Regions from separate parts of the Homo sapiens genome. Here region 2 is linked to region 1. Evidence: fine-mapped expression QTL. A gene starts in region 1. The other region holds a variant in brackets. All regions are shown on one strand. Distances are between the middles of the regions. Region 1 holds the start of SNAP29 (synaptosome associated protein 29). Region 2 overlaps PI4KA (phosphatidylinositol 4-kinase alpha).

Evidence for each region. PIP is the estimated chance that this variant, and not a neighbour inherited with it, causes the effect.
Region 2: its variant is the best candidate, but not a certain one, in a credible set for the expression of SNAP29 in whole blood (INTERVAL, PIP 0.53).

Annotation. Positions count from the first base shown.
Region 1 is chr22:20,857,787-20,860,716 of GRCh38, forward strand. It overlaps SNAP29 (synaptosome associated protein 29), which reads left to right and starts at 1,221. Exons shown (of 5, transcript NM_004782.4): 1 at 1,221-1,561. The coding sequence starts at 1,325. PI4KA (phosphatidylinositol 4-kinase alpha) reads right to left here and starts at 1,025. Exons shown (of 55, transcript NM_058004.4): 1 at 784-1,025. The coding sequence starts at 939. RefSeq lists silencers at 634-683, 704-1,463 and an enhancer at 1,143-1,952.
Region 2 is chr22:20,818,831-20,821,330 of GRCh38, forward strand. It overlaps PI4KA (phosphatidylinositol 4-kinase alpha), which reads right to left. Exons shown (of 55, transcript NM_058004.4): 5 at 1,709-1,781; 6 at 811-1,070. Among named protein-coding and RNA genes, the nearest start is that of PI4KA, 39 kb to the right of the region's middle. The variant C/T (reference allele first, on the strand shown) is at 1,326.

The DNA.
Region 1 (2,930 bases):
AACAAATTCAGGTCCCACTCTAAAATCTGTCTCTTTCCAGATCTCAAGGCACACCACTGAGTTGCCTTTCACCTTTCTCCCAAGATGAGGATTGCTCTGGCATGACTTCACCTTTCTCTTCTGAAGCAATTCCAAGTTCACTTCTCTGCCCACTGACAGTTCACTCTCCTTTCCCTGCCACTGTCCCTTCTGCAAACGCACAATCTTTTACCCAACCTAACGCCCCCAGCCTCGTAGAATAACACTGCGCAGTTGGTTTACAGTCACAAAGCACTTTCAAGACAGTGTTTCGTCTCCTGGTCACCACAGTCCGGTGAAGCCGGCAAAGCAGATAAAAGCATCCCCATTTTACAAGAAAGCCATCTTCCCAAGGTCGCGGAATAAAAAGCAGGTGAAATCGGAAGCAGAACCCCAGGTCTTGACCCCTGGTCCTCGGCTCATCCCACTGCTCCGCACAGCCGCCCACGATCCAGCCTCCACCTCCGCGATGTCACAAGATGCTCCCTGGGCCAGCAGCTCACATCCCCCACCCCCATCCCACAACCACCCACCTGCAGCGGCCCTGCAGGCCCCGCCGACCCTTCCCCCACGGTCCCTCTCTCTTCACCAGCCCCTCCCACTAGGGCCTCCTTCCCCCGCTAGATCCCTCCGCTCAGGCGCCCCCTCCCGCACAGGCTGCCGGCGAGCCCAGCCTCGGCCTCCCACAGACCCTCGTCCCGCCTCCACGCTTCGTCACCCCAGCCCCTCCTCCTGTCAGCCCGCGGCCCAGCCCGCCGACGTTACCTTCTCCAAGGATGCTGGTCTCTGCACCGCCAGGGAGCGGGCCAGTGACAGGACCGTGTTGAAATAGAAGCCCCGCGAGGCGCTGGAGCCGGAGCCGGAGCAGCCGCCGCCGCCTCCGCCTCCGCCTCCGCCTCCCCGGGCCGGGGCCGCCGCCATCACCTCACGAGCCGCGGCGCTGCCCGCCGGCTCCCCGCTCCTGGCCCGCGAGCGCCCGACCTCAGGGCGCAGGCGTAGGTGCATCCGGCTTTCCCGCCACGTGACCTCTCAGTTGCTGACACTAGATAGGGCGTGGCTGCGGGGCGGGCCCACCGCTGCAGGGGAGAGAGGGGATGGACAGTAGGCTGCGGTTGCGCGCGCCGGATGTGGGCCCCCCCCAGCCGACCTGCGCGATGGTCGGCTCCGAGGGCGGGGCCACCTGCGCGCGACGCGCGGAAGGAGTTCGCGCGACGACCGCGGGGTCGGCGGGCGGGGCGAGGCCCTGGACGGCGGCGGCAGTGGGGCTCCTCCTTCTGTTTCCCAGACCGAGAGCCGCGCCGGCACCATGTCAGCTTACCCTAAAAGCTACAATCCGTTCGACGACGACGGGGAGGACGAAGGCGCCCGGCCGGCCCCTTGGAGGGACGCCCGAGACCTCCCCGACGGGCCCGACGCGCCCGCGGACAGGCAGCAGTACTTGCGGCAGGAGGTCCTCCGCAGGGCTGAGGCCACGGCCGCCAGCACCAGCAGGTCCCTGGCCCTCATGTACGAGTCCGAGAAGGTTGGGGTCGCCTCTTCCGAGGTGAGCCTGGGGCAGGGCTGGTGTGGACTCGCCGGTCTCTGTGCTGTCAAACGGAGACGAGAAATGTTTTGCTCACAATCTTTTGAGAATTCTCAAGTTGCCTAGCATAGATTCTTGCACCTTAGTGACTCGATGGTGGTAACAATCTGTTAACTATGTAAAGGTATGTGCATCTGGAGTACTTGAAGAGGGCAGTTTACCCCAGAAATCTTCCTTAGCTATTAGTCTGCTTCGTTGATTTTTTTTTTCTTACGCCTAGCTCACGGGGAAACGCCAGATTATTTTCTGTCCAGGTGAGTAAAAATTCTGAACAGCAGGTCCTAGGTTTGGGAAATGGAGAGTCCGTTTCTTCGACATTATTTCCTGTGCAAAATCTGGCACAGGGTTTTGGCCATTCCTTCCGGAGTGAGCCAGAAAGAGAGGACTATGTGCCTGCGAGTGTCAGGTGATACCCTGAAGCATCAGGGCAGGTGGTCCACGAGTTCTTCCCGCATCATTGACATCTCCACCTAACCAACCAATAGAGGTATTGAAGTCCCTTCAGCCCAGACAGCTGCCTAGTTGACCAAAGCCTGGGTTTGATTGAGTCCAGGGTCTTACCTTTACTTCCCAAATCCTAGACAAATAGTGTGCGGGTTAAGAGTTTGTTGCTCCAACTCATCTTCATCAGTTCTTCCCATCCTTAGATTTCAGAGAGTAGTACCTTCAATAACAATTATTCTGGCCGAGCGCAGTGACTCACGCCTGTAATCCCAGCACTTTGGGAGGCCTAGGCGTCGGATCGCCTGAGCTCAGGAGTTCGAGACCCGCCTGGGCAACATGGTGAAACCCTGTCTCCACTAAAATTAAAAAAAAAAAAAAACTAGCCGGGTGTGGCGGTGCGCCTGTAGTCGCAGCTACTCAGGAGGCTGAGGTAGGAGAATCGCTTGTACCCGGGAGGCAGAGGTTGCAGTTAGCTGAGATCGTGCTGCTGCACTCCAGCATGGGCAACAGACCGAGATCCTGGAGGGTCTTTTTCTTTTTCTTTTTTTTTTTTTTTTGAGATGGAATCTCGCTCTGTCGCCCTTGCTTGGGTACAGTGGCATGATCTGGGCTCACTGCAACTTCCGCCTCCGGGATTCAGACGATTCTCCTGCCTCAGCCTCCCGAGTAGCTGGGACTACAGGTGCGCCGCCACACCCGGCTAATTTTTTTTGTATTTGTAGTGGAGACAGGGTTTTGCCCCGTTGGCCAGGCTGGTCTGGAACTCCTGACCTCAGGCAGTCCGCCCGCTTTGGCCTCCCAAAGGGCTGGGATTACAGGCGTGAGCCACCATACCGGTCGAGAATGATTCTTTATTGTACACCACAGTCTCTCTTCAGCCTGCTAA
Region 2 (2,500 bases), 39 kb before region 1:
CTTAAGGGCACCAACTGTCTTCCAGGCAAAATAGCATTTGGCACCCAACTGCTATGAAACATATACTTTATGACTATGAAATCACTTATAAATCTTATGTTGGGGACTAGCCTCAACACCACCTGTAGGGTATTTGATGTTTGGTGGCGACAAAGGAATGAGAAGAAACAGGTTAAGAGTTTATAAAGGCGGGAGCCAGGGGACCAGAGCAAATCAGAGGCCGCAAAGGCCTAGAGTTTTGGTTTTTACACTATTTATTGAGTATAATCACTTAGATTTAAGAAGCAGATGTTTAGGGCGAAACGGTGAAAGGGAGGCAGTGTGTCATATGTGTAATCTATAGTAGCGGCAGTTTAAATGAATTTTTTTTGTGTTTAAACAGTATATTTTCAACTTATTGGACAGCAGTTAGTGGGAGCAGGCTTAACTAGGAGTCTGTATGTTTGGCCATATTTTCATGTTTTAAAGGAGTGGTTTTTTTTTTTTTAACACAGTGTTTATGGATAAGAGAGTAAGTCTTGCTCAGAGTATGGGAACATAATGGCGATAAGGCTTTTTTTTTAGAGGCCTTTTGTGGCTTTTTACACCTCATTGTTTTATATTTTTATGGCCAGTTTATATGTGCACTCTATAAGCCCTTCCCCCCAACATCTTAAGAGGGACAAGACAAGTCTTTGTATTAAAGAGAATTCTAGTGAAACATTTCACGTTACTTAAGTTTACTCCAACTACAAAGAAGAGGGATTTTCTTCGCAGGGGAGCTTAACAGGGTCTTTCTCCTCTGCTCTTTCCCCAGTAGCCCAGGCCCACCTGAGAGATGCTGGACACACTGCTGGTTTTCCTCTTCAGGGTACCCTCCTGACAGACAGTCAGCAGATTGCTGGGGAGGATGGAGCGGAAGTCATTAAAGGAACGCCTTCGAACACCTTCAAGCTCTTCCAGGACACGGAGGGAATGAGGAGGGATTTTGGGAAAGAGCTTTGAGAGGAGAGACTCTTCCATGTTGCTGTAACGCCCAAATGCTCGCGAGATTCCTATCAGGCATGGGATAGCATACTTGCAAAGGTATTCTAGAAGATCAAGTGAAAACGTTACAATATAAGAAAGTATCCTGATAGAGTCATATAGTAAGTACTAACTTGTAACATTGACTAAGATTTCACAACCCACCCACTAATAACTGTGAAGGTTCACAATAAGCCACAATAATGGGGTCCACCCCAAGGGCTGACAAGTGATATCTTCAACCTGTCATTAACAACTTCAGACTATGACTTCAATACACCCAGCTGCCCTGCTTGGAAGGTCTTCATCTATTCATGGCA[C/T]ACCCAAATCAATAAAATAGCTAGGCCATATTATCAAGTACCTTATACATTTATTCCTCTTAGGAGCATATTGGTAGCCTCACAACACAGAAAAAATGACCTTTGGAAGTCAACTAATCTACCCACAGATGTTACAGGTGAAGAAACTGGGGCCCAGAAGGGTGAAGTTACTTGTCCAAGGTGACCCAGCGTCTATGTAGCAGAGCAATGCACATGACCCCATGTGGCCTCTGAGGATACTAACACACAACAAATCAAACTAAAATAGGAAGGTTTTCTCCCATCATATATATTAGGTACCCAACAACAGAAAAGACTGGAGAAAAGCAAGGGAAAGAGTAACCACAAAACCATTTTAAGAAAAACCTTAAGGATACTCGTACCTTTGTCTTGAATCTCCAAGGCCTGGCACATCCCCAAGAGGACATGCAAAACCTGCAAAAGCACCTCTAAAATCTGTAACAGTCAAGGAAACAAGAAAAAAAAAACATAAACAAAATTAGGTAAATATCACGAAACTAAGTCAGAATTAGAAGGCACTTCAGACATTATCTTAACCAACCCCATATATGATACATCCCTCCACAACGACTGTGCCAAGTGGCCAACCAGCTGACTTTCCAGGGACAAAACCCTCACTCTCTGGGCTGGTTCCGAGTTCCTCCCAATACTGGGCCAATGTTGTCCTCCTGGGGCTTGTACCTACCAGCCCTTGGGGCTGCTTTTTCCTCTATTAACATATTCTGTAAACAGGTGATGGGTCCCCAAATCTTCTCTTTTCATGGGTAAACGCCCTAGCGCTTTTCAACCGTATTCTTCATGATCATAAATCCTTTGTAATGCTAATTGCCAGCTTCTGATTTTACGGTAGTCCAGTTTTCTGTCTGGAAGTGTAGTGCTCAGAATAAAATACATTAACATCTGGGATGCTGGAACTCACCCAGCATACTCACCAAACTCATCACAGATTCTACACTTCTATGTATGTGACATTAGCTTTTCTGCAGCCACTTCACACTGCTTATGTGAAGCTCATCTCAATGAGCTTATACATAATTTTTAAATTTTTTTTATTTGTTTGAGACGAAGTTTCGCTCTTGTTGCCCAGGCTGGAGTGCAGTGGCATGATCTTGGCTTACTGCAACCTCCACCTCCCAGGTTCAAGCGATTCTCCT